2 separate regions of the Homo sapiens genome follow, and region 1 is linked to region 2. A link means that fine-mapping ties the variant in region 2 to the expression of a gene that starts in the linked region. Tissue or cell type: cerebellum. Region 2 holds a variant in brackets; the other region holds the start of a gene. All regions are shown on one strand. Distances are from middle to middle.

Region 1 (10,258 bases), 58 kb after region 2:
GCACACAAGAAAAAGAAACAAAGGGTATAGAACATAAAATTCCTTGTGAGTTTCTTAAAGCCAGAGTTCATACCCCTGCAGTATTGTTATTAAAATATTTACTGGCGGTTTCTATCTGACCCAGTCAGATAACCGAGGCATCTAACTGGATCCAAGCCAGTTAATTATCAGATCCAATCAAATCCTGGACCCAGTCCAATGTCTATCGACTTCCAAACTCAGCTAAGATCAAAAATTTGCTCAAGCAAGCTTGAACAGCTGAAAACGGCAATGTATGGAGCTTCAGAATCTGAGAGAGAATGCAGCCACAATCTCCAGTTGCTGTAAGAGAGCAGTGGACACTGCGAGAGGACGGGCCCAGCAGGTACCCCTTGTGGTCACTCAGTGCTCCTGGGGGATCACTGGGAGCTCTACTTTGGGGTCCATTTCTGACACCATCTGTTAAAAGAAAAACTTCAGACAAATTAAATTTAGCAGAGCTCAATTGAACAAAGAATGACTTGTGAATCAGACAGACCCCTGAACCAGGATAGCTTTGGAGTGACTCCAGTGCTGCTGAGTGGTTGGAGAGAATTTATGGACAAAAAAGGAAAGTGACCTAAGAAAACAGAAGTAAGGTATAGAAACAGCTGGATTAGTTACACCATGACATTTCCCTTATTTGAGCATGGTTTGAACAGTTGGCCACCTCTGATTGGCTGAAACTTGGTGACTGGTACAAGAGTAGGTTACAATCTGTTTAATCATTGGGTTATAGTTCACTATGTATGAAGAACCTTTAGGTTAAACTTAAAATATTGAAGGAGGCAGCTTTAGGGTAAATTTAACACTAGGAAGCTGTAAGTAGTTTATTATGGGTGATACACAGAGTCGGGCAAGAAGGGGGGCAGAGGTGGAAAGACGGGTGAGACCAGGTAATAAAGAATCTTATGTTATATTCATAAGTCCATAATTTATTCCTGCCAGCACCACATACCTATTTGTTTAAAAATTTCATTTCCATAGCCCCCCTAGACTTCCTCATGAAGGAATTTCCTAAGACTTTGACCTTGATGAATTCTGATTCATTGACAATCCCTTCTTTATTTTCTTATTTTTATTTTTTCACTTTCTTATGGTCCTGAGACCACTCCTTTCTGAGTACAAGCATCTTGGCTGGCCTAGAATATAGTCACAACTGTGTTCCACGGACTTTACTGAAGGTGGAAACAACTGTCTTCCCAGCATCCCATCTGTACTGGTCCATTTGCATTGCTATAAAGGCAATTTATAATTCACAGTTTATTATGGCTCACAGTTCTGCAGGCTTATAGGAAGCATGGGACGAGCATCTGCTCCTGGTGAGGCCTCAGGGAGCTTCCAAACATGGTGGAAGGCAAAGGTGGAGTTGGCATATCACCTGGCAAGAACAGGAGCAAGAGAGAGAGGAGGAAGATCACAGACTCTTTTAAACATCCAGATCTTTCATGAACTCATTACTGCAGGGAAGGTACATAGCCACACAAGAGATTCCCCATCACCCAAATACCTTCCACTAGGTCCAACTCCAACATGGCGGTCACATTTCAACACGAAATTTGGAGGGAAAAAACATCCAAACAATATCACCATCTTACAGGCTGGTGTTGTCTGGTGGGCTGTTTGGGAAATACTGGTCTAGACACATTTCTCAAACTTGGCAATATGACTCCACTGGACATTAAAAAGGGATTTCCAGGTATTTCAAGATAAAGGGATTTATTCTCAGGAGCTGCAAACATAAGCTAGGTTTTCTTACAGTGTTAACATCTTGGTTTCAGTTACACGGGTCACCAGATTGATACAGATTTAGCTGAGGTAATAAATCACTGCTTCAGCAATCTTAACAGTCAAGTCAGTTATCTAACGATGATTTGACAAGTAATGAGGTCACCTGCCATTTCCTCCCATAAGTAATTCAACTGCATTTAGTTCATAATACATATGGCTAGAAAAGCATCTAAATCAATTCCTACGATCAGAGAGAGAGATGTCCCCATCACCATGAAGCAGAAGTTACAAAGAAATGGGGGAAGATGCTATGCAGTTGGCCTTAAACATAGAGAAAGGGACTATAAGCCAAGGAATGCAGGTGGCATCTAGAGGCTGAAAAGGGCAAGGAAATGGATTCTCCCCTCGATCCTCCAGAAGGAACACAGCCCACACTTTGATTTTAGATTTCTGACCTCCAGGTCTATAAGATGATCAATTCATCTCTCGATATGGCCTCCTCCTGTTCATTGCCACTGCTCTCCAGTTTAGACTCTCCCTTGGATCTGCCTCTTTTCTGAATCCATCCTCTCAAGTTGTTTTCTTAAAAATCAAATCTTATTATGTCACAGGGTTTGAAGTGCATGAATACTCACTGACTCTAGTTAGGCTCCTTTCCTGGAATATCATTAGAAACCAGAAGTAAGGGTTGTTTACAATTCCCATCAAGGACATTTGGTGTGATCTCAGGAAGGCTTAACAGGGATGTGATTATAGCTACCAAAAAAAAAAAAAAGCTTAAAACAAATTGTACTACACTCTGAAGAAAGAACGCATTAACCAAATGGGCTAGGTAGGGTAAAGATTTTTCTGCACTTATCCAGCACTGAATGGAGGCAAATTCACTGACTTTGGCAGCCATCAGTAAGACTGGAGGTGAGGATACCTGGATTTTTAGGAAGGGTTTTTCCTAAATAGTAGGTATTGTTATCCAATCAGGAAGTTCTGTCCTGATATAAATGCTCATCATATAAGAGTTAGTTATCAAGAGTCAGTCAACTTGCTCACCTCTAGATGTGGTAATACTGAGGTCCAGATCCTCCTGGTGATCAACACAAACTGGATTAAGAGTCAGCTACTCAGTCAGATCCTGAATCCTGGTCCAACGATAACCACACTCTTGCCTGCTACCTGCTTCAAGAAGTACACAAAAGAGGGATCACTACCACAGCCAAAGAAAGGAGGAAAGTTTTTTTTTTTTTTTTTTTTTTTTTTTTGAGATGGAGTTTCGCTCTTGTTGCCCAGGCTGGGGTGCAATGGCGTGATCTCGGCTCACTGCAACCTCTGCCTCCCAGGTTCAAGCGATTCTCCTGCCTCAGCCTCCCAGTTGCTGGGATTGCAGGCATGTGCCACCATGCCCGGCTAATTTTGTATTTTTAGTAGAGACGGGGTTTCTCCATGTTGGTCAGGCTGGTCTCGAACTCCCAACCTCAGGCAATCTGCCAGCCTTGGCCTCCCAAAGTGCTGGGGTTATAGGCATGAGCCACCGCGCCCGGCCAAAAGGCAGAAAGTTCTAAGAAGGAGAGGTCAACATTGGCAAATGCCACAAAGGGCACAAGATGGGAATTAAATTTTTCCATTAGATTTGGCAATTAAGCAATGGCTGATGTTGTTCAGTGGAGTGAAAGGCTGAGAAGGGAATGAGAGGTTAGGAAACATTCACCTTAAGGCTAGGCAACTCCTTTGAAAAGAGTCAAGTAGGGTTAAGGGAGGATCCATGCCCTCCAGGTTGACTTTTAAATCATATTCCCTTTGGTTTTGCATTTGAATCACAGTGAACTTTCTCCTCTCCAAATGTTGATTTGACAAATTTGAGTCTTACCATGGCTCTCTTCTCAGTCCACCTGCAGGTCAAGGAACTAATGAGGTGTGGAGTAACTAAAGGTCAAAAAACAAGAGGAAGAAACAAAGGGCCAAAAAACCCCAAACCTTAAATCAGGTCCTGAGTCAGATACGCTGTAACAAATTCTGCTTCAAGTTTAATATTCTTGTTTTGATGATGTTTAAAAAAAGAAAAATAAAAGCAAGTGTCTGGAAAATTAAAAGGCGGGGTGGGGGGGGGCATTTTAATTGGAATGCTTTCTTGTATCTCATCCACTATCCGCACCCCATCGCCCTGCAAATTAATAGCTGTTGCGGAGTTGGGGTATGTGTGACCACAAAATCCAAAGGCTGAATTTTGCCCAGTGCCTGAGTAATTGCATGCCACACACAAAAAAACAGTAGAATATTGAAAACAACATACACATCTGTATTTCCATATGAAAGCACCCGTTTCCTTTCTTGATTATCTGCTATTTTTAAAGGGGTTGGGAGTGCAGCGGGGCGGGGGGATGAGGCGTTTTTTCTGAATACGAGCCCAGCTCTTTCTAAACTTTTGTTACTCACGTCCGTTTGATTCATTTGCTGTGTTTTTTCTTTCTTTCTTTTTTTTTTTCCCCTCTCCTGCCTCTGTCATTGCCTGCTGCTAAGAGGGACGCTGAATCACAGCCACTGCAGATGAAAAGCAATTCAAACCCAGTCCTTGGAGGGGGGATGGAACGGCTCTTTTTGATTTTTTTCCCCTCTGCAGAAAAAGCCTCCTACTTTCCGGGTGACCGTAGAGGGCAGTTTGACAAGTCTCAGCCCCGGGCGATGGAAGATTTTGCCCGTGGGACCGTCACGAGCCACCGGTCATCTCCCCGCGCCCGGCTTTCGGGTCCTCAGGCCTCGGTGCGTCGCGGGCCAGGCGACAGCGGGGGGGCGTCGCGGGCCGGGCGAGCGTGGCCCGGTGGGCCCGAGGGTCGCGCCGAGCTCCCCGCCGCTTTAAAAGCTCCCACAATGCAGCGCTGGCGTCCCAGTTCCGTTACGAGGTCTCTCCCGGCGCCGGCGAGCGGGCCAGGCGCGGGCGGGGCGCGGAGGAGCGGCGGCTGAAACCCGAGCGCCCGGCCGAGGGGGGCGCCCCCGCGCCGCTCCTCTCGCGCGCTCAGCCGCTGCCCGGCGAAGGGGCGGAGCCGCCTGGCCGCCCGGCCCGGCCCGGCCCGGCCCGGCCCCCAGCCCGGCCCCCAGCCCAGAGGCACCGGCCGCGGGAGCGAGCGGGTCGCCGACTCCTACGCCCGCGCTCCTCCTACGCCCGCGCTCGTCCGGCGCCCCGCGCCGCGCCCCGCTCAGCGTCTGCCGCCCAGCTCCTCGCCCAGCCTCGCCGAGCCTCGCCCTTCCCGCCCGCGGCGGCGTTGGCGCTGGGGGCGGCTCCCGCGGCGTCTCTGCCGCTGGCCGAGCGCTCGCGCACCGCGGCACCCCCGCCAGTGGCGTCCACACTCACCTAGCGCGGGCCGGGAGGTGCGCGGAGAGGGAACGCCGGGGGGCCGGGGCCTCCAGCCGGTGCGGGGCGCGCGGCGCGGGGAGCGCCGGGGAGTGCCGGGGAGTGCGGCGCGGGGACGGGCGCTGGGCGGCCGCGGAGCTCCGGGTGCCGCCGCGTCCCCAGCGCCCCGGCCGGCCCCTCTGGGCGGCCTGCGGGGGCGGCGCAGTTGCGAAACTGAGTAAGTATTAACTTTACTTAGCGGCGGCGATCCGGGCTGCGCCGGGGACCCCGCCCGTCCCGCCTGCAGCCTCGGAGCTGCCCTCCGCCCGGTTGCCCCTCTCTCCGCACCTTGGGTACCTCGTCCGTTCCGCCCCCACCCTGCCCCGCCGCGGGCTCCCGCTCCCTCTGCGTTCACCTTTCCTGGTGTGTCACCCTTTGCGCCTCTCCTCGCGGCACACAAGCCGCGGACTGAAAAGTACGAGCTTGGTCTTTGCTTTTCTGCTTCCTCCCAGTGTCCTTGGCAAGGGAGTTTAGAGGCCACTTTTCTTGCAAAGGGAATTTTATGTCTGGTTTTTAAAATATTTTTTCCTCCGGATGGAAATCGGATGCTCGCTTGCCGGGTGGCGGTTTGGTGAACGCTTTTCTCCTCTAAAAAAATATTGGTTTATAGGTTTTTAAATTTCATTTGAACTATTAACCATCTGCATTCTATTCTCCTTTGCCGCCAGTCCCTTTGGGGAGGGGAGTCCAGAAGAGGGGACGTTCAAAGTAATTCTGACTTGCAAACTAGAAAGTTTGAGAGGGTAAATCGCACAAAGCCGGAAGATTCAACTTGAAGGGACGCGAGCTTTGAATGTGGGTCCTGGTGCGGCACTGGGTTTTAAAAGATGAGTACTTGGGTTCGGAATCCAGTGTTGCGTTGTTATTTTAGCATCATAGAGCCGCCTGGTGTTGCTAAACCACTACTTTCCCAGCCTCAAATGGCATCTTGAACAGTGCAACGTAGGATATATAATTGCGGGTCAATATTGTTGCTGATCTTTAGGGATTTAGAAGCGAAATGAATGCAAATCACGTCTCATAGCTGACTTAAACCTGTCAGGTTAGCCCTGTCAGGTTAGCATTAAAGCATTTCATTAAAAAAAAAAATCCTCTAGCCCTGTGACAGCAGGGACGAACATTTATGGATTTTCCAGTAGATTGTGGCTCAGCAATTCATTAGATCTGCTTTGTCCCCAGGAAGCATTTTAAAATATGTATAAATCTCTGCTTTTCTCTCCATTAGATTAACCACTCATTCTGGTAGGGGGCCCCAGGTAGTTTTTATTTTCTTTTTTGCCTTTCATCTTGGAGTTGCCAGGAGTTGCCATCATGTTATGAAGGAACAGAAAATGAGAAGCTTTCTTAATGGGTTTTCGACATCCTGTCCTTTGCCAGAGTGAGGCGGTAGTGAATGCCAGCCAGCTTTCTGCAGGGAGAGGTGCAGGGTGGACGCAAAAATCAGGACGCAGGAGACAGCACTATCATTTGGGGAAGTGGTTTGTGTGAGTTTTATCTTTTAGCGGGCATACTAATGGTACTTTTAATTTTATTTATCTCTATGAGGCACACTCCCCAAACCATAAAATTACACATGACCATCCCCCACTTGAAGAAGACTGAACATAGTTTGATGATTATTCTATTCAAGGATCAAGTACAACAAAATATAATTTGTAATACAGATGATAAAACCTTTCAAAAATCTCCCCCTTCCTCATTTTTTTCCTCAAGAGTCTCCAGGTGGTACTTTCTGTGATGGACACAATTGGCAGTAATGCACTGAGTTCTTTCTAGGTTTATTGATCAAATCTTATGTCTGGGCTTTAGTAGCTTAGGGGTGCATTAGAGGGCCCTGAGAGGGAGCAAATCATGGGGCTGTGCAGGCAGGAAAGGCACTTCACTTTGCAGAAGTGTCAGTGTGCTTCTGGAAAAAACAGTTACAAAGAACAGAGAGTGTTTAAGTTGTTTATAGGATGCATGTTTCCTGAATTTGGCATTTGGTTCAGATATTTGGTAATTACAGATTTAAAATTCGACATGGTTGTATAATTTGTTTTGCCTTTTATTTATTTTTTTAAGGTTGCAACCTTTTAACCTGAATCTTCAGTGTTTGGCTCTTGTAGGCTTCTATACGTGGTGACTTACGTCAGTTTTTGACCTGACTGCCTTGTGTTTTGAGAAATGATTAGTTCTTCAGGGTTTCTGACTCATTAATTGATCTGTTTTATGTTGATGTATATAATGACTTGGAAGTAAAAATATTGTTTGCCGTGGGATATTGTTGTCTTTTTCTTATGGTTAATTCCTGGCATAATGGCTTTGCTCCTTTATTATAAAACATTAAGATCTTAGATATCTTGCTAGTGTTCAAAACATTACAAAACTCTTTGCAAGTAAAAGTGGAGTGGGAATGGGAGTTGGATAGAAAAACATGCATCATAAATTAAAGATTTGGATTACAAAATAATATAACGTTTATTTACTCTTCTTTGATGCTAACTTGCTCTAACCCTAAATAGACTTAAAAATTCAAAGTGTAGAGAGAGTTTCCAAGTATTCTGTATAGTGGAAAGAATGTTTACCCCACTGCCAGCCAGACTTGGGTTGCACGTGTGACTTTGTCACTCCCGAGGTGAGTGAGCTCGGCCATGCCACTTCAGCCTCTGTGATCTACAGTTGCATTTCTGGAAAATGGGGATACCACTACTTAAAGGGATGCTATGGTGAGTAGAACATCTAATATATATTAGATGTGCCTGGCACATTTCAGCCAATAAATGACAACATCTCAAACTCCTTCAGAATTGAGCTCTTGGTCACTCAAACTTTCAAACTGTTCCCCCTCCATTTTTCATCTCATCCATCCAAGGAGTAGCTCACTCCACTCTCTCTTTTCTTCTATCAGCCCTAGCAAACCAGTCCATCATAAAGTCCTGCTGTCCATTTTTATTGCAAAATCTCTTTCAAACCGGTCTGATTTTCAGTCCCCACTATTCTGCCATCCTAATGCAAGCCACTGTACTGTATTATCTTTTTCCTTGGTGCGGTGCCTCCTGCACACACTCTGCACCCCTTGCAGTCTGTTTTACTACCAGCAGCCTGAAAAAAAAAAGAAAAAGTATTTGCCGTCTTAAAGTTGTCAGGGCTCTCAGGAAACACATTTATTTATTTTTGGGATAAGATACCAAATCCTTGACATTACTTCAGGATCCTGCATGATTTGATCTCTACATCCACTTGCATCTCTTGCTGTCATCTTGGCCAGTTCTCCAGCAGACTAGCCTCAGGCCTGTGGCTCATGCTGTTGGTCTCCCTATTTTAGGATCATCTCCTTGAGTAACTTATCATCCTTGGGTGCTAGCTCAAATGTCCTTTCTCATAAAGGTCTTCTCTGACAAGCCCACCCTTATCGTCATGCGAATTAAATGTCCTTTATTTTCTCCCTCATAGCGTAATCACTTTTGCTTCTGAATATTTACCACAATTTATATATTATTTAATCACTTAGGGTCCTTTTCTTGCCCTTTAGGTTAATATGAAGTTGATAATACCTGGTTTAATCACCAGTGCCCAGTATATGTAGTAGGTGCTCAATAAATATGTTGATATAATGAGTAAGATCGTAATATCAGTTTGTATCTTTATCTTTTTTTTTTGAAATGGAGTCTTACTATGTTGCCCAGTTGGTCTTAAACTCCTGGCCTCAAGTGATCCTCCTGCCTCAGCCTCCTGAGTAGCTGGGACTACAGGTGTGTGCCACCATGCCTGGCTTCTGTATTTGTATCTTGATTGCCTTCTTTATCACTGTTAAATTTGCTTTTCATGATAGAAAAGCCAGACCCACACTTTTCTATATTCCTTCTTTGCTGGTTATATGTATAATATGAAACGGCCTTTGCAAATATCAGGTAAAAATGCATGTAGGTTCTGTGAAATATTCGTAGTAATAAATTGAGACACCTTTTAATTAGTGTTACCCTTGTGACTTTCTGTTGTACATAATCCTTTTTCTAAATACATCATTAAAATAATTATTTTTTTATCAGCATAAGCTTACTGAAAGGAAAAAAAATCTTACTGTGCCTTACTATTTTACAGAGCGTCACATGATAACACGTTAGTCAGCTGCTGTCGGCTGGTGGTGCCAGACATCAAAGGAAGATTGGGAAAACTTTAGTAGAAAAACAAGACCTAGAGTTCTAAGGATGCTCAGTGCTGTCCAGCTGTTGATGTGACTTGCATGGTAACCAGACATCACTGGACCATACACTTAAGAGAGAGGAGGAGTTTTTTTTAAAAAAAGTGGGAGCCACCTAGAAGTCTGGAAGTTCTTTTCTTCTCTCTCACTAAAGCATTCCTTGTTTTAGCCAAAAAAAAAAAAAAAAAAAAAAGTCTCATGACCTTCCAAGGCCAAGGAAGGCTTACAGCTTTGAGTATTTTTGTCATGTGGTTGCTCTTTACGAAATATTAGCTTGATGTCCTCTAACTCTGAAGTACTTATGTCTGTTATTGATGTTTGTAATCTCTACTTCTTACATAATTCTGCATTTTTCTCTTGACTTGTTTTTTAGGACTTTAGTATTCCTTAAAAATCATTTCCTCACACCCTTAGAGTGTAGTTCTAGTTCTTTCTAGTTTTGTATCTTATAGATCACTGAGTGTGTGGGGGCACTTTGGAGCTGATTCAAGTCCTTCAGAACGTACTCCTCTGCAGTCCACCTCGGGGGTTCCCAAACTGTGATCCTTTGAGTGGTCTGGACCCTGAGGTTTCCGTAGCCTGGGTGCTCTTGGGTTGGGAGAGCAAGGAGGATGAAAGCAGCATTTTTGAGCCCCTGTTGGGTGCTCTCGAAGAGGAGGAGTGAGTAGTTTATCTGGTCAGAATTGGAAAAGTGAAGCTTAGGCTTTCTTTCCATATATTTGCTTCACAAAAGAAAATTGTTCCTTTTGTTCCTACATTTCCCCACTCCTGATTTTCTAGTCAGGAAGGCATGAGAAGAGAGAGATGCCCCTGCAAGCCAGACCCTTACCCTGGTGCTTATTTAGACCTGATTTTAAAAATGTTGAGAGCAAGCCCTGAGAGGGGCACACCAGGTGATTTGCCTCGTGTAGGCCCTCTGTGCCTGCAGGACATTCGCATCACGAGTAGCT
Region 2 (10,258 bases):
ATTCTTGAGTAGCACTGAGCCTGGCCTGCAACGGAAAGCTTACAATTTTGTAGAGAGTCTATCCATATATTTGTATGAGTTTATATAGCAATTTAGGTGACCCATAAGGATGCGTGAATTGAACCATGGTAGGGAGTTTGCTGTACATGTAAGTCAGGAGGAAACCGTGTCAAGACATTTGAGGGTGCTAGTGAGATAGCAGTTGAATTTAGATTGTGTAAGGAAGGATGCTGAAGAAATCAGGTGTTCTAGGGATAAGTGAAGGAGCTGGAGCTCTTGATGGTGTTCAAAAGCAAGTATTGTGGTAAAGACATGAAAGAACTGGAAAGATAGGCAGGTGTGGTCAGAGGATGAAATCTGGAATTTAAGATTCCAGAGGCTTAGCTGTTCCAGACAGTGACAAGGTTTAGGGCCTGGCTTTCTAAGTGTAGCAGAGCTGAAGGCCATTAGAGTAGGAAAGCTCTGTAAGCTCCCATAGCACAGAATCATATCTTGAATGTGCATTACATATTTCCTAGCAGTGCCAAGCACAGATGGATTTTCTTTTTGTCGTACAAACAATATGACTACATTTTGGAAAATAGAGGGGGAGGACTATTCACATTCCCACCACCTACACAACTCATGCTCTCAATTGATGTATCTCCTTCCACATGATGCATATAGCTGCATCCATAACTTATATATGATCATCTATTCTTTTATCTTATTTTATTTTTTTTGGGACAGAGTCTCACTCTTGTTGCCCAGGCTGGAGTGCAATGGCAGTATCTCGGCCCACTGCAACGTCCACCTCCCAGGTTCAAGCAATTCTCCTGTCTCAGCCTCCTGAATAGCTGGGATTACAGGCATGTGCCACCATGCCCGGCTAATTTTGTATTTTTAGCAGAGACAGGTTTCTCCATGTTGGTCAGGCTGGTCTCGAACTCCCAACCTCAGTTGATCCACCCACCTCAGCCTCCCAAAGTGCTGGAATTACATGCATGAGCCACCATGCCCGGCATATTATTTTATTTTAAATTAACATTATAATGTAAGCATTTTCCACGTTATAACGAACCTGCCTTTGCAAAATCGTACAGTAAAAGAAACTTGACATAGTGGACTCCATCTTGCTTCTGACCTTCACACTATTCTTGGTCATTCCTGGGTGTGGTCCAAGCTAACTTTAAGAGGAATTTATTTTATAGTTTAACCTTAAACCAAGGGTTATGATAGCCCTTCCCAAAACTAAACCATTTTTGTAAAACTAATGAAAGGCCACAAGGATAAAATTATCCAAGGGGCTTGAACTCTGCTAAAATGTAGATGTAGTTTGTGTAATCCCTTACTGCTCAGGAGTCCTGTTGCCAGAGGTCACAAGATTTGTGACTTCCCCAATTGTTCCTATAAATAACATCACTATTGTAGAACCTAAAATTGGTTTTTTGCAAGACGTTTTTCAGACTGCCTTCACCCAGATTTATGACTCATGACTCAATCGATCCTGTGGCCCCATCCAGAGGCAGACTCAGTGCATGAGGACCATTTTTCCACACCCCTGTGATATCAGCCCCTACCAATCAGTAGCACCCATTCCCTAGCCCCCTGCTCACAAAATCACCCATAAACACCCCTAACTTCTGAGCCTTCAGGGAGACTGATTTGTGTGGTAACTCCAGTTTTCCTGTATGGGATGGCCTCATTTCAATTAAACTCTCTCTACTGAAATGCCTTGATTTCAATGGATTGATTTTTTCTGTGTAGTGGTCAAGAAGAACCCATAGATAATTACAATATAGATTAATTGTTGGGTTCTGGATAAGTGGGGTTTTTATTGGGGGGGAGTTGTTTGTTTTTGAGACAGAGTCTCACTCCATCACCCAGGCTGGAGTGCAGTGGCCTGATCTCAGCTCACTGCAACCTCTGCCTCCGGGTTCAAGGGATTTTCCTGCCTTAGCCTCCCAAGTAACTGGAATTACAGGTACCCACCACCACATCCAGCTAACTTTTGTATTTTTAGTAGAGACGGGGTCTTACCAGTTTGGCCAGGCTGGTCTCGATCTCCTGACCTCAACTGATCCACCCACCTGGGCCTCCCAAAGTGGTGGGATTACAGGTGTGAGCCACTGCACCCAGCCCTTTTGATAAGTATTTTAAATAAAAATTTTGGAATACTATAGATTACTGATGACGATCCTCATTTTTGTGAAACTAAAGAAGAACACTGTGAAACTTCAACCAAATTATCAGGAATAAATAGGGACATCACTCATTTTTGTCTCACTGTTAGAGATGCATGGTCTTCTGACTTCTTTTATCTTGTTGTTGCATATGTTGCTCTTATCTTTTTTACTAACTGCATTCCTCTATCCTTTGAAGTTAGGAATATTATAAAGTTGTTTGGAGTACAAATCAAGGTCTGTAGCTGGTAAGTGCAAAGATGACACTGAATCTGTCTTCCTCCAGGACCAGGGGCTTCCCCTTAGAGGAGTGCTAAGAAGATACTCAGTATATCCTTACCCCAGCCACAAGATAGTACAGTTCTAAAATTTCGTTCAGTTCTCATTTCTCTAGCTGGGGTCAAAGAACATCTCTTGTCTTTTTCTGGGTTGGAAAGATTTAAGTTTCCTAAAAGACTGGCTGATTTAGTGGAACAATCATTCATTGTATCCTATTGCTAAACCTCTGCAGTCTTCTCTAGCAAGAATGAATTCAAAAACATACAAAGAAAAATTCTCATTGTTCAAATTAGAATTAAAGATGCAACAAATTTGCAAAAACCAAAACACACACTTAGGAATCTTTTTCTTCTCTTTCTTTTCTTTTCTTTTTCTTTCTTTCTTTCTTTTTTTTTTATAAGACACAGTCTCACTCACTCACTCTGTCACCCAGGATGGAGTACAGTGGCACCATCTCGACTCACTGCAACTTCTGCCTCCTGTTTATGCAATTCTCCTGCCTCAGCCTCCTGAATAGCTGGGATTACAGGTGTGCACCACCATGCCTGGCTAATTTTTGTATTATTAGTAGAGACAGGGTTTGCCATGTTGGCCAGGCTGGTTTTGAACTCCTGACCTTAAGTGATCCACCTGCTTCAACCTCCTGAAGTTCTGGGATTACAGGCATGAGCCACCATGCCTGGCACACTTAGGAATCTTGAACCCCTGTTTTTGATGGTGAGCTCTGTATTAATAAGAGTTGATAAGAACATGATCTTGATCTGTGATGTAGAGAATTTCAAAAATGTTATTTGAAACACTTAAAGACCCATCGATTAATCATAAAAGGTATGGGTGATTGCTTTTGAAAAAATACTTACAATGTTCAATTGAAAGGATAGATATTCACATATAAACTGTGGTTACAGCTATGTACATCATGTGGAAGGCAACACAACCAATTGAGAACATGAGTTGTGTAGGTGGTGGGAATGTGAGTAATTCTCCCCCTTTATTTTCCAAAATGTAGTTATAGTGTTAGTACAACAACAACAAAAAAAATCCATCTGTGCTTGGCACTGCTAGGAAATACGTAAAGTACATTCAAGATATAATTCTGTGCTATGGAAGCTTATAGATCTTTCCAGTCTAATGACCTTCAGCTCTGCTGAACTTCAAGAGCCCTAAATCTTGCCACTCTCTGGAACAGATAAGCCTCTGGAATTTTAAATTCCATATTTCACCTTCAGATCATAGCTGCCAATTTCTCTCATTGTTTAATGCCTCTACCACAATACTTGTCTTCTAACAACATCAACAGCTCTAGTTTCTTAATCTCCAGAGGACTGC[A/G]ACTCCAGCTCACAGTCTCACTTAGTCCTAGAGTGCCTGATTTCTCCTACCTGGACATCTCCAGATCCTTGACTCATCAATCCTATCTAGGATGGCTGATATAACCCCTTTTCATATTTCCTTGTCTCAATTCCAAATCATAGATTTGGAAGCATTATATTGGGAGACTCGTTATATTGGGAGAATATCTTGTGGGTATAGCAAGAGAACCCCATTAGAAGGCAACATTAACTACTACTTATGGCAGAGAGTGGCAATGCCAATCCTATATTCTTATTTCTTCTTCCTCACTAATCAAATCCGATCTTCTTTAGTTTGACAATATGCTCTCTAAAGATTACATTGATCAGACTCCCTACAAAAAAGGTGACCAATGAGAAGTATGCAGTGGTCAAGTGGGTAGCTTTTCCTGAAAGCTCCTTAAAGGGAGCTGACTCATCTGTGCTCTTCTTGCCCTTTACCCTTTCTTCCCCCTTCACGTCTTTAGCTGAGGTATAATGACTGGAGCTTCAGCAGCAATTTTACAACCAAAAGGAAACCTTACGTAGGTCCCTGCCTTCTGAGAATAGTGGAGCAAAAACCTAGATGCAGCCTGGGGACATGGACGATGTTGCATAATTACTACATAGTCCCCAGCTTCCTGCTTTCAGACTATTTTTTTAATGTGAAATAAAATAACCTCTATGTTTTTAAAGTCATTCTTATCAGGTAATTGTTACTAATAATTTGGTGATTCCTAATTGTCACACAACTTAGTTCACTCATTGATTACCAAGTATTTGCTGACTGTTGTCATGAGTTTGGCATTATGTTACAAGTTTGGGTAAAAACAAAAAAAGTATAAGAATAGTTTTAGAGTACAAATAAATCCTTATTTCTTCTATTAAGAAAATGACTTTTTTGTTGTTGTTGTTTGTTTTTTGAGACAAAGTATCGCTCTGTTGCCCAGGCTGAGTGCAGTGGCTCAATCTCGGCTCACTACAACCTCTGCCTCACAGGTTCAAGCGACTCTCCTGCCTCAGCCTCCTGAGTAGCTGGGAATACAGGCACCTGCCACCATGCCTAGCTAATTTTTGTATTTTCAGTGGAGATACGATTTTGCCATGTTGGCCAGGCTGGTCTCGAACTCCTGGCCTCAAGTGATCCATCTGCCTCAGCTTCCCAAACTGCTGGGATTACAGGCGTGAGCCACCACACCTGGTTTAAGAAAAGGTATGCTTTTTAAAGATCATAATGAAGTTCATGGTAATCTATGATTTTTTTCATTTACTAAAATGTATAGGCAATAAGCACTATGGGCTATCAAAGATGACAAAGGTGGGAGGTGGGATGTAGTGATTGAGAAAAAAGGTGACAATTGAGTTGAACCTGAAAGGAAGGAGAAGAATGGCGGGAAGAGTTAAACCATTTCTTCTCGTGCCCAGAGGAAAATCATGCACAATGAACCAGAAAGAATAATAAAAAGCTTGCCAGATGCAGTGGCCCATGCCTCTAATCCCTGCACTTTGGGAAGCCAAGGCAGGCAGATCGCTTGAGGACAGGAGTTCAAGACCAGCCTGGGCAACATAGTGAGACCCCATCTCTACAGAAAAATTTAAAATTTTTTTCAAGGTATGGTGGCACACACCTGTAGTCCCAGCTACTGGTGCCACTACACTCCAGCCTGGGCAACGGAGTGAGAACTTGTCTTTCTCTCTCTCTCTCTTTTTTTTTTTTTTTTTTGGTCTTTTTACCTGCAGTTTCTTTGGGTATGAGAGACCCTATCTCTTAAAAATAAATAAATAAAATAAACCTTACATTTAGGAGATACTAAGGACTGTAGCCTGGCTGGACTAATTCTGTTGTGTGTCCTTAAGTAAGACAGTCAGCCTCTTTGTTCTGGAGGTTCTCCCTTTCAAAACCACTACATATTAGGCAGGGTGCAGTGGCTCATGCCTGTAATCCCAGCATTTTGGGAGGCCAAAGCAGGTGGAACACTTGAGGTCAGAGTTCGAGACCAGCCTGGCCAACGTGGTGAAACCGTATCTCTACTAAAAATACAAAAATTAGCCAGGTGTGGTGGGGTACACTTGTAGTCCCAGCTACTCAGGAGGCCGAGACAGGAGAATTGCTTGTACGTGGGAGGCGGAAGTTGCAGTGAGTCAAGATTGTGCCACTGCCCTCCAACCTGGGTGACAGAGAGAGACTCCATCTCAAAAACAAAAAACAAAAGCAAAAAAACAAAACAAAACAAAACAAAAAACACCACGTGTTTATAGCATGCTTGGAGACTGTCAGCTGAACTCTGTACAACAGTCAGTGACCCTGGAGTTTTATTATACAACATCAACCTTTCTTCATAAGAATGTTACCAGAATAACAACTTTATGTGAGATAAATGTTTCACAGCCCTTTGTCTTCATATCCCAAGTTGTCTGCCAATGCCTATGGCTCTTATGCTGAATGAAATTGCTCTGTGTGATGTGTACGTTTTTGGGTTCCTCTTGATACAGTGGGAAGTGCCTGTGGCTTCCTTTGCTCAGTAAGTGTGTCTTACTATGTTTTTGTCCTGCTATGCTATATCCATGAATGTATTATGTTGTCACTAAGAGTTTTCTTATAATATTTTACCAATGTCATAACCAAATCTTCCTGTGGTCACTGTTCAGAAAGCTACACTGGCTGTTTAGTCATTTAAGTTACTCAAGGACAATATTTAACCATCTGTGTACCACTGAGGTAAAAAAAAAACAAACAAAAAACAAAACAAACAAACCAAAAAAAAATCTGACTACAGTAAAAACATTTCTATTTCTCCCTTTTCCCTCCAATTCAGATCTTAACATTTCTCAGCCTTCAGTTAACTGGCCCTTCTTCAGTCTTTTCCCATAACTCAGTTCCTCTCTCCACAAGTCTTTTCTTTTCTTTTTTTTTTTTTTTTTGAGATGGAGTTTTGCCTTGTCACCCAGGCTGGAGTGCAGTGGTGCGATCTCGGCTCACTGCAAGCTCCGCCTCCCAGGTTCAAGCGATTCTCCTGCCTCAGCCTCCTGAGTAGCTGGGACTACAGGTGCCTGCCACCACACCCAGCTAATTTTTTTGTATTTTTAGTAGAGACAGGGTTTCACTGTGTTAGCCAGGATGGTCTCCATCTCCTGACCTCATGATCCGCCTGCCTCAGCCTCCCAAAGTGCTGGGATTACAGGTGTGAGCCACCACACCTGGCAAGAGAGTACACATTTTTATCCATTCTTCCTCCAAGATAAGGACTTACTGCCCTTGCCCCTGCTTTGTTTTTGCTCCCAACCTGGGAGCTGGTGGCAAAGATTAGGGTCCTTCTCTAAGGCAAAAGCATCAAAGCCAAACCTTTTCACAATGAGGACCAATCCTTTAGGTAATGGCATTCCCTTTAGAAGGCTCTATTAAAATAGCAGCATGAAAGTGTCTTAAATCTTTGGATTACCAGCTTTAAGTTCACCAGCTTTCACTTTAGGTGTGGTGGAAAAATCCTATAAAGAACATTTAAAGGCAAATGTATTTCAGTTTGGACCATGACATTATGCAATTGTACATCGCATGTTCTTATTCCAGATCTTCAAACAGATGAAAAGTTAACTATTGTATTTTGATTGAAGCCCAGACCAGCTGTGAGAGGAAAATTTACCACTTTCTACCAGGAAGATTAGAGGCTGTTCCTAGCAAGGCAAAAACCAGTTATTAAAGTTTTCTCATTAAATAAAGACCATGTGTGTTACTGTGGGTGTGTAAACAATGAGTGCCTGCCATCCCACACAGGATACACAAGGTGGACTGCAGGAGAATGCGAGCAGGGCAGAGGAAAGTCCTATTTATCCACACGTAAATTCATTTTCCTGACTTTCAGGGCTAACATCTGCCCCAAAACTCCCCAAATGAAACTCAAGGAGCTTCAAACCCCTTTTTAAATATTTTCACAAAGTCTATATGGATTTGGGATGTGAAAAGAGTGCTTAAATGTTCTTGTTCTATCATTTACTGGCTGTGGGTCATGAGCAATTCACTGAAACTCTTTGAACAACAATTTCCTCATCTATAAAACAGGGTGAATAATACCTACCATGGAGGGTATCAGGATGTTTAGCAATAATATGCATAAAGTGTCTGGTGTGTAGGAGACTTTTAATACATGATCAGTGTTGCTATAAATATAACACATCTTCATGTTTCTCCCAAAACACACACACATGCAAACATGGCAAGGGGGTGGAGGAGAGAGAGGAAGAGGGAGAGACAGGCAGACAGAGAGAGAATGATGCGATAAGTCTATGCTGTTGAGTAAGAGGAGGCCTATAGAAGCATGTTTTTATTGCTTTCTCATTTCACCATTTCAGGTATAATATAGAGCTTCTCTGAGCTATGGCTTTTATATCAAGAGTCAGCTTCCATTCCAAGGGACATATTAATATCTGAGAGAGTGAGCAAAAAAAAAAAAATGTTCTTTGAGGGAGGGAGAGAGAGAGAGCAATTGCTCATCAGTCATATCATCACTGAGGGACTGACCAATCTGAATCCACCCAGCTGAGCTACCCGTGCAAATTTTTGCAAGAGCCTTAGTAATCCAGCCATAGAATGAAAAGAAGTGGGATGTGGAAGGGGAGGCAACAGGTGAGCAGTTCCTTTCATTCCTTCCAAGGCAGAGAAACATTGCAGAGAAACAAAGTAGGGACTCCTTTCTTAAAATACTCTCTTCCATGCCTCTCATTTCATCCTGACTTTGCGGGTCTACAGTAGATATATGGTGCATTGCCCAGATGCCCTCTTTATGGCTAGGGTTCTTTTTTAATTTAATTTTTTTATTTATAGACAGAATCTCACTCTGTCACCCAGGCTGGAGTACAGTGGTGCAATCATAGATCACTGCAGCCTCGAACTCTCGGGCTCAAGGGATCCTCTCACCTCAGCCTCCTGAGTAGCTGGGACCACAGACACACACCATAATGCCCGGCTAATTTTTTCTATTTTTCTTTTTGTAGAGATGGGGGCCTTGCTATGTTGCCCAGACTAGGGCTGAAGTTCTTATTCCCTTCACTGCTGGAAGAGTTGCCTCCTGATGACTCACCACTAACTCCTTCCTCAGAAATTGCTCTCAGTCAAAGGCAGCTGCCTTGCTCTCCTAGGGCAGCCAGCATCCAGTGACTCCTAGAGATGAGGGTACAAACACCCTGCACCCTTGCCTCAATTCAGGATGGGCCATTCCAGATCTAGAGCTCCCCAGGGGATCTGCTAAGGCCTCCATTGCAACAGCATCATGGTTCAGGCCTCTCCTCTGAATGGATGCTGGTCCTTCCTGATTCCTCCACTCCTTAATAGATGTTCTTGGGAGTTCTCCTTGGTTAATCTCCTGCATGCAAATCTCCATCTCAGAGGCTATGTCAAGGTAACAGCCTACAACAGTGGCCTTAGACAGTAACAAGCAGAGTCTGGTAGGTGCTGGTGAAGCTCATGACAGCCCACTCATCATGTGCTGAGCTGCTCAGGAAGACCTGGAGGGGACAGGTGTGCTGGGAAACCTGCATAGAGGTAGCCCAATGGATGGGTTAAGTCACTGGGCTCTGGAGCTGGCTGCCTGTGTGAAACCTAACTCTGACACTTGCTGGTTATATGGTCTTGAGCAAATCCCTTAATCACTGTGTGATTTAGTGTCCTTCTCTATAAACTGAGCGTAATAATAGGACCTACCTCATAACTTTATTGGGAGGATTAAATTAACTGAGTCAATATGTGTAAAGCATTGAGATTGGTTTTGGTGCATGGTATACACTCAGTAATGATAGCTATCATGAAACATTTGGATAATCCATGTAAGTATCTGTTATTTGGGAATACCCAGGTTCTTAGAGCACTTAAATTAGTTGTACATTTTAATCCCAGTTGTTCAAGATAGTAAATTCCTTGAGGGTAAAGATAATATTAGTTAATAATTAGATAAACACATTCATACATTTATACACATCTATGTATATAAATGTACGTGTGTGTGGAGTATGTGTATGTGTCAAGCTGTCTATCTACATTTATATTTGTGCAAGGATATCAGAGAAGCAGAGATTGTAATGACCCTGGACAGAGTAGCTGGAAAGGAAGAGCACTGCTCTATTGGACTATCCAGGTGTCTGCATTCTCCCCTCTGGCTCTAATCTTTCATATTGAGAAGGCTTCTCTCTAGAAAATAAAGTAACACATTAGAAGACAGGACCTTAGCCTTTGCCTGAACAACTCTGGCCATTGCCTAAAGCTGTACTACAGAGACAAAAGGTTAGACTGCTTATTTGGTACCTGGAATTGACCGGGTTAATAACCTTTTTGATTTACAGAGTAGTAACTCTGGCATGTTATACTTATGAAAGGATTGGAACAAAGACGATAATGCCTGCCCAGTGTTAAAATTTAATGTTTTTAATTTTTATTTTTATTTATTTATTTTTTTGAGACAGAGTCTCACTGTGTCACCTAGGCTGGAGTGCAGTGGCATG

What was found. PIP is the estimated chance that this variant, and not a neighbour inherited with it, causes the effect.
Region 1: RASSF8-AS1 starts here. The variant in region 2 is fine-mapped to the expression of RASSF8-AS1 in cerebellum (GTEx, PIP 0.99).

What each region holds. Positions count from the first base shown.
Region 1 is chr12:25,953,843-25,964,100 of GRCh38, forward strand. RASSF8-AS1 (RASSF8 antisense RNA 1) reads right to left here and starts at 5,600. Exons shown (of 4, transcript NR_038228.1): 1 at 5,484-5,600; 2 at 2,797-2,922; 3 at 2,385-2,505; 4 at 812-1,399. RASSF8 (Ras association domain family member 8) reads left to right here and starts at 4,840. Exons shown (of 6, transcript NM_001394098.1): 1 at 4,840-5,306. RefSeq lists silencers at 4,452-4,941, 5,042-5,141, 5,212-5,261, 5,402-5,451.
Region 2 is chr12:25,895,767-25,906,024 of GRCh38, forward strand. No RefSeq gene overlaps it. Among named protein-coding and RNA genes, the nearest start is that of MIR4302, 27 kb to the left of the region's middle. RefSeq lists an enhancer at 3,429-3,598. The variant A/G (reference allele first, on the strand shown) is at 3,771.